Linked DNA regions of Homo sapiens. The protein of the gene in region 1 purifies or fractionates together with the protein of each later gene. This does not show direct contact. Each region holds a gene or a part of one and is shown on either strand. Other genes may lie near its edges.

The links.
Region 2: the proteins of TMPRSS13 (region 1) and LIMD1 purify together in Homo sapiens (co-immunoprecipitation; 2 studies listed by BioGRID and IntAct, with this or other methods). This does not show direct contact.

What each region holds. Positions count from the first base shown.
Region 1 is NC_000011.10:117,901,775-117,905,687, reverse strand, and holds part of TMPRSS13 (transmembrane protease serine 13), read left to right. Parts: coding exon 1-50; intron 51-1,586; coding exon 1,587-1,729; intron 1,730-1,880; coding exon 1,881-2,033; intron 2,034-2,236; coding exon of another isoform or gene 2,237-2,251; exon of another isoform or gene 2,252-2,646; intron 2,647-3,422; coding exon 3,423-3,449; 3' UTR 3,450-3,913. UniProt on the Homo sapiens protein: Serine protease. Cleaves the proform of PRSS8/prostasin to form the active protein. Cleaves the proform of HGF to form the active protein which promotes MAPK signaling.
Region 2 is NC_000003.12:45,674,438-45,678,350, forward strand, and holds part of LIMD1 (LIM domain-containing protein 1), read left to right. Parts: intron 1-2,484; coding exon 2,485-2,622; 3' UTR 2,623-3,913. UniProt on the Homo sapiens protein: Adapter or scaffold protein which participates in the assembly of numerous protein complexes and is involved in several cellular processes such as cell fate determination, cytoskeletal organization, repression of gene transcription, cell-cell adhesion, cell differentiation, proliferation and migration.

The DNA.
Region 1 (3,913 bases):
CAATGAGACCTGCTGGATCACAGGCTTTGGCAAGACCAGGGAGACAGATGGTAAGAGGCAAAGATGCTTGGTTGTGTGTATGTATTCATGTGCATGTGTGTGTATACATGTGCGTGTGTAAGCAATGTGTCTGGGTATACAGATGAAGGCCTATGTCGATGAGCGTTTGGGTATACGGATTCATGGGCCTGGGTGTGATTATGTGTGTATAGACACCTGAGTATATGCCGGTGCAGTCACTGTGACAATGCCCTCCAATCAAGACCACCTGGAAAACTGCTGTGGTTGAACTAGTTGAGTTCATTGCTCATTGCAATGAGAGAGAGAACACACCATGAAGAACCATGGAGCATCTCAGCAAGAGGGTGTCAGAGAGGGAATGCTCGTAGGATTTAGGTGGCTTGGGGAGGGTTCAAAGACGCAGGACTTTTCTCTAAATTGTGGTGTCAGGAAGCAGGGGTTATGATTGGGAACCTTAATAATCTTATCTAGAGGCCGGGCACCGTAGCTTACACCTGTAGTCCCAGCACTTTGGGAGGCCAAGGTGGGAGAATCTCTTGAGCCCAGGAGTTCAAGACCAGCCTGGGCATCATGGCAAAACCCCATCTCTACAAAAAATAGAAAAATTAGCTGGGCATGGTGATGTGTGCCTGTAGTCCCAGCTATGAGAGGGGCTGAGGCAGGAGGATCACTTGATCCCAGGGAGGTTGAGGCTACAGTGAGCCATGATCATGCCACTGCACTCTAGCCTGGGTGACAGAGTGAAACCCGTCTCAATTAAGAATATATATATATATATATATATATATATATATATATATATATAATCTTATCTAGGAGCTCTAAGTGGTAAGGAAGCAGCAGTCACTCATATTGGCCAGGAGAGGGGGATGTCTGGTACTGTTGTGGTTTGCACAGTGACCTTGTTTTTGTCTGGCCTTAAACAAGATGATGAAGTGGTCTTGTTTTCATGTCATCCCAATCACAGAGTGCCTTGTCCTGTGAGATTGCTTACTTTGAGCAGGATGACCCCATGGTTAGACTCAGGCCACTTCCATGCATCAGGACCGCTTTTCCCTCCCTCCGTGAGGCAGAGCAATGACTGATGTGGGTGCAGCCTACTTCTCCTCTTGTCTCCATACCTGACTAGCTGTGTGACTGTGGGCAGGTCACTTCTCCAGCACCAGGCCTCCCCACCGGTAAATGGATTAATGCCACCTGCTCTCTTTAGGGCACATAGCTTCCAAAAACAAACAAAGCCATGTATCTGAGGGTGCTTTGAACGTAGGCAAGTGCTGTGCAACATGTCGGGTAGCCTGATAGGCTTGTGAGTGTGTCTGTGTGCATGGATGTCTCTGTCTCACGTGCAGTGAGCTGTGTCTTGTGTGAGGGCGTGTGTGCCCATATGTCCTGGGTGTCCAACCACAGAGGGCCTCCCTTGGGTGGGAGCCAGGCACGGGCATGGCACCCTCCATTCCCAGGAGGCTGTGATTCTGGGTCTTGGGGTGGCAGCTGGACGGCCAGGAAGCTATCTAGAATCTCACTGGCTTCCCATCCTCTGTCTCCTCCACCCCACTTCACTGAAGACAAGACATCCCCCTTCCTCCGGGAGGTGCAGGTCAATCTCATCGACTTCAAGAAATGCAATGACTACTTGGTCTATGACAGTTACCTTACCCCAAGGATGATGTGTGCTGGGGACCTTCGTGGGGGCAGAGACTCCTGCCAGGTGAGGGTACCTGTGGGTGGGGCTCAGGTCCCAGCACCCTGGGGATGGGGGAGGCAGGGGTGTTGGGGCTGATGTGGGAATTGGGACCCCACCCTTTCCCGCTCATGGACCACCTGTCCCATCCTGCGAATGTGCCCCCTCTCCCCTGCAGGGAGACAGCGGGGGGCCTCTTGTCTGTGAGCAGAACAACCGCTGGTACCTGGCAGGTGTCACCAGCTGGGGCACAGGCTGTGGCCAGAGAAACAAACCTGGTGTGTACACCAAAGTGACAGAAGTTCTTCCCTGGATTTACAGCAAGATGGAGGTAAGATCCCTGCAGCAGGACACTGCACCCAGCAGGCTGGGAACTTCCTCAGGTGGGGACCCTGGAGGAGCACCCAGGTTGTAGGCAGAGGTCCCCTCAGCGTCCCCATATTCGGGGGGTGTTCTGGACAGGGTCAAATGTGATGCCTGGGGTCAATCCCAGCTGTCTGTGTTTCTTTCCCTGCTTTTCTTCCCTCAGAACAGAGCTCAGCGGGTTGAAAAAGGGTGGACCTACAGGCCAGGCAGGCAGTTGCTGGGCAGATGTTCTCCCAGAAGTATTTTTTTGTGTAAGGTTGCAATGGACTTTGAAAACGTTTCAGTTTCTGCAGAGGATTTTGTGATAGTTTTTGTTATCAAGCATTTATGCATGGGAATCCGCTCTTCATGGCCTTTCCCAGCTCTGTTTGTTTTAGTCTTTTTGATTTTCTTTTTGTTGTTGTTGTTGTCTTTTTTTAAAAACACAAGTGACTCCATTTTAACTCTGACAACTTTCACAGCTGTCACCAGAATGCTCCCTGAGAACTACCATTCTTTCCCTTTCCCACTTAAAATATTTCATCAGAACCTCACTACTATCATAAAAGAGTATAAAGTAATAAAATAATAAAAAGTTATTTTATGTTTTTTGACTTGCTTTAACCTATATCCAACCTCAGAAGTCATTGCTCAGGTCAAACTGAACCACAGACCCTTCAGTGTGTGCCTTACCTTGCCCTTGGCCTTTGGAATACTTGATCCACCCTAGAGAGTCCCCTCTCCCACTTCCACCCTCTCATCTTCCATTTTTCTTACTGAAGAACTCTGACTAATCTATCAAAATCAGCCATTTACAATGCCTGGAATATCCTCGGTATTTACTATTTATTGTTATAAATTAAGGATGAATGAATAAACAAATAAATGAAAAGAATAAAAGGTGGGCCTCACCTCGGTGCCAGCCCCAGTGCCACTCTCCTCTCCCAGGGATGACCGAGATGTGAGTTCACACAGGCCGCTGGCAGTGGAGTGATGGGAGGCCTCCCTCCACGGCAGGAATTTCGGTGTCAGGAAACAGGGATCTGCCTGCAACTCTGCTGACCTAGTTGAGACCCTGCCTTCTCTGGGCCTTCAGCCTTTAGCTGTAAAGCAGGGGGTGCTCTGCCAGCCCTCCCCTTCTCTGCCTGGGGAACAGGGGAGGGCTCAGATAGGGGGAGCAGAAAAGGCTCCAGAAATCTAGTGCAGAGAGGCCCTCCAATCCTGCATCCATCCTTTCCCTTTGCTCTCCCTCCTTGGAGAGGCAGTGCTAGGTGACAGCGAGGCTAAATTATAGGTTCTGAACCCCAACCTTGGGCTTCTGTGCTCCTCGCCCACCTGGCCCACCCTCACCCTCTTCTCCCATTCTCTTCCTCAGAGCGAGGTGCGATTCAGAAAATCCTAACCAGCTGGCCTGCTGCTCTGCACAGCACCGGCTGCTGTGAAGACTCTGGCCATGGTGACTGGCCATGTGTGGCATCATCTGGGCTAATGGCCACCGGGCACCATCGGACTCCCACCTCCACTGTCTGCTGCCTCTGTGTGTGTGTGTGTGTGTGTGTGTGTGTGTGCATATGTGTGCATTGCCACTCTCCCAAGTTTTTCAGAAACCAGCAGAGCTGTCAACTCTTCTCAAAATCCCAGGCTGGAAATTACCTGGAGACAAGAGTTGAGTACCGTGGATGTTCCTACAGGAGTGTCCATAGATGGATGGAGGAGGTGGAGCCCAGAGCCCAAGGAAGAGCTGGGAATTCTTGCTTCTCTGACCCTCACTTACAGACTAGCCCAGTGTGGGCAGATGCCAGCGGCCCAGGTGGCGCCATTGCTGTCCTGGGATGGATCGTGGGTTTTGGTGGATGCAGCTTCCCA
Region 2 (3,913 bases), on another chromosome or scaffold:
AAGCCCATTGTAGACATCCAAGAGAAAAGCATCCTGCGTTGACTGGGGCAAGAGGCAGTCAACAAGATTCTGGCAAGGGTCAGCCCTCTAGAGCTTCTGTAGGAAATGGAATGAAGGCTGGTTCTTGGGGGAGGTAGGAGAAGATGGAAATGCTCAAGGTATAAAGGTCTTTCTTCTGCATATTCAGAACTATCAAGTCCTGCAACTGTTGGAGCTGCTCTCCCTGAAGCTGCAGAGCTAGGAGGGTCGTGGAGAGCATGGGTTTCAGGTCCTATCTGCGGGCCACATTGTCAGGCAGGTGTGCGATTTGGGGAAGGGACTCCCTCCCCTCCAGCTTGCAGGCTGTTCTATCTGCCTGAAGCTCCTTTCTCAGCTGAGCCCTGGAAATCATGAAGCCCCTCTTGGAAACAGGCATGTCAGCTGGTGGTGTGAAGGCGGGTGGGGTCCGCCTGCCCCTTCCTGCCCTTTGTCCCAACCCAAGATGAAGGAGCACTAGTACCTGATGACTGTCAGGAAAGCTAGAGGTTGCCCCTCACCAACCCTTGTGAAGGGTGACCATGGAATTTCAGCCACAATTAAGTGAATTCACCCATGGAAGGAGATTAGATTCATTTGGTGACCCTGTGGGTAGAGAATGGGGGTGTCCCTCATATAGACTTGTCCCACTGCCAACACTGAAGAAATGGGTGGGAATCATTGCTGCTGGGACCCCAGGTGCCCCAGGTCACTGCAGGAGAAAAAGGTGAGGACATTTGCTCAACAGGCCTCTCCACATTTTCTAGACCAGTGCTATCCAAAAGAAATATAAGGGGCCGGGCGCGATAGCTCACGCCTGTAATCTCAGCACTTTGGGAGGCCAAGGCCGGCAGATTACTTGAGGTCAGGAGTTCGAGACCAGCCTGGCCAACATGGCAAAAACCCATCTCTACTAAAAATACAAAGATTAGTGGGCGTGGTGGCACACGCCTGTAGTCCCAGCTACTCGGGAAGCTGAGACAGGAGAATTGCTTGAACCTGGGAAGTGGAGGTTGCAGTGACCTGAGATCATGCTACTGCACTCCAGCCTGGGCAACAGAGCAAGACTCCGTCTCAAAAAAAGAAAGAACTATGAGAGCCACAAATTAAAGTCATGTATCATTTTAAGTTTTCTGGTAGTCACAATTAAAACGTTAAAGAATTATGAGAGCCACAAATTAAAGTCATGTATCATTTTAAGTTTTCTGGTAGTCACAATTAAAACGTTAAAAGAAACCGGTGAGATTAATTATTTTATTCGGTTCAAAATATCCAGCCAGGCATGGGCCCATGCCTGTAATCTTAGCACTTTGGAAGGCCGAGGCAGGGGGATCACATGAGCCCAGGAGTTTGAGAACAGCATGGACAACACAGTGAGACCCTGTCTCTACTAAAAATACAAAAATTAGCCAGGCATGCTGTGCCTATAGTCTCAGCTACTTAGGAAGCTAGGATCGTGTCACTGCACTCTACTCTGGGTGACACAGCAAGACCCTGTCTTAAAAAAGTAAAAAATCCTGCTGGGCGTGGTGGCTCATGCCTGTAATCCCAGCACTTTGGGAGGGCAGATCACTTGAGGTCAGGAGTTCAAGACCAGCCTGGCCAACATGGTGAAACCCTGTCTCTACTAAAAATACAAAAATTAGCCAGATGTGTTGGCGCGTGCATAATCCCAGCTACTTGGGAGGCTGAGACAGGAGAATTCCTTGAACGGGGGAGGTGGATGTTGCAGTGAGCTGAGATCGCACCACTGCACTCCAGCCTAGAAAACAGAGGGAGACTGTCTCAAAAAAGAAAAAAAAATCCAAATGTTATCTTTTGAACATGTAATCAATATAAAAAAGTTACCCATGAGATTTTTTTTGTAACTCCACAATTTATTTTATTTCTTCTAAAAAAAAAAAAGGGATACGTGTGAAGATTTATTACATAGATATATGTTGTACGTGTGCCAGGGTGGTTTGCTGCACCTATTGTCCCATCCTCTAAGTTCCCTCCCCTCACCCCCACCTCCCAACAGGCCCTGGTGTGTGTTGTTCCCCTCCCTGTGTCCATGTGTTCTCATTGTTCAACTCCCACTTATGAGTGAGAACATGTGGTGTTTAGTTTTCTGTTCCTTTGTTAGTTTGCTGAGAATGATGGCTTCCAGCTTCATCCATGTCCCTGCAAAGGACATGATCTCATTCCTTTTTCCCATGAGATATTTTTACATCCTCTTTTTGTCCTAAGTCTTCGGAATCTGCATTTACACTGACAGCACATTTTAAGTGGTTCACAGCAAGTGCCTTGTGGCAGTGTCTCCTGTGTTGGACAGGCCTCCACGGGGCAGGAGCTGTGTTTCTGCACTGGCATTTCCTGCCTATACAGAAACACACAGCACCCTCTGCTGATTTTGGGGACTGTGGCCTTCAGGTCAGTCTTGCAGTCTGTTTTGTTTTGCTTCCCCTGGACATGTCTGCCTCCCCACAGGACTGTGGTCTGGAGCTCAATGATGAAGATGGCCACCGCTGTTATCCGCTGGAGGACCACCTGTTCTGTCACTCCTGCCACGTGAAGAGGCTGGAGAAGAGACCCTCATCTACAGCCCTTCACCAGCACCACTTCTAGCCAGAGCCACTTGCAGACATCACGGCAGGGGATGAGGAGCCGGGGTTGCTGCTGCTGCTTCCGGTGGCCCCTGGGGTGGAAGTGGGGTAGGGGAAGAGGAGGGGCAGGAGGGAGAGTTCCTGTGAGCATGTGGGGGGTGCCTTTCCTTTAACCAGGGAGGTGAACACTACCTGCCTCCTGCGTGTATTTTCCAAGTGCTTTTCTCTGTTGCCACATTTTCCTCAGGTTACTCAGGAAAATGCTCCAGCATGTGCGAGCACATGACCTGAGGTTGCATCATAGCACCAAAGGAATCCTCCTGTCCCCTCTGGGAACATTTCATGCTTCAGAGGGAGAGGTTTTTATTGAGCTTGTTTCACAATATCCCCTTGAAGGGACAGCTCAGCTGCCAATACATTCAACCCTTTCTCTTCCTTCAGGAAAATACCTATACCCAAATGTTCCCTCCCCCGACATATATCATGGCATGATTTAAGGCTTCTTTTCACCTGAGAGCTTCAGTTCTTCTGCAGAATGGCTGCAAATTTAATTGCATTAAGGCAAGAAGGAAGCTCTAATGTGTGCTTTGTATCCTAAGATAAATTTGCTTAGAAAACCAGAGTCAAGATTTGAAATAGGTGAGGCAGGGTTTCCTCCTTAGACACTGACAGCATTCTCTGTACCCCTTCAAATCCTTACTCTCCTAAAGGCAGCTGAGTCCGCGACAGAAATTTGCCCTATGTGAGTAAAACATACTTTGGGAGAAGAACTTGGTGCAGGCACCAGGATTTTTTTTTTTGCCCACGTGTTTGCGCTGTTTTTCTCTGGAGTTCTCAAGAGTTGGTGACTTGGAAGGCCGCTTCTGCAAGGCAAGTCTCAGGAACCCATGCAGGTACATCGCTTGCACCTGTTTTTAGCTTATTTAATGACGGGCTTTTGGGAAGAGCTGCCCGCATACTGAGAGACAGCTTCTTATAAACAAGGAGAGTTTTTGTGTGTGCGAGATCTCTAAGCCAGCGTGGGAGGGAGCGCCTCAGGATAAGTTATTATATTCATTTCGTTGGTTTCTCTCCTGCCCAATTCTTGGCACAGGCATTATGTTTGAAGAAACCAGGATAAGGTACACTGCTTTTGTCTGTTTAATTTTTTTAGTTGTTTCCCTTCACTTTCAGTCTTCCACACACAAAAAATACCTCACAGAGCTTCACCAAATCACAGATTCAGGAGGAATTTGGCTTTCACACTGGACTCAGATACCTTCTTCAGTGTGTTGGAAATCACTGGCTTCACACAGGCCCAACTCCAGCTGGTC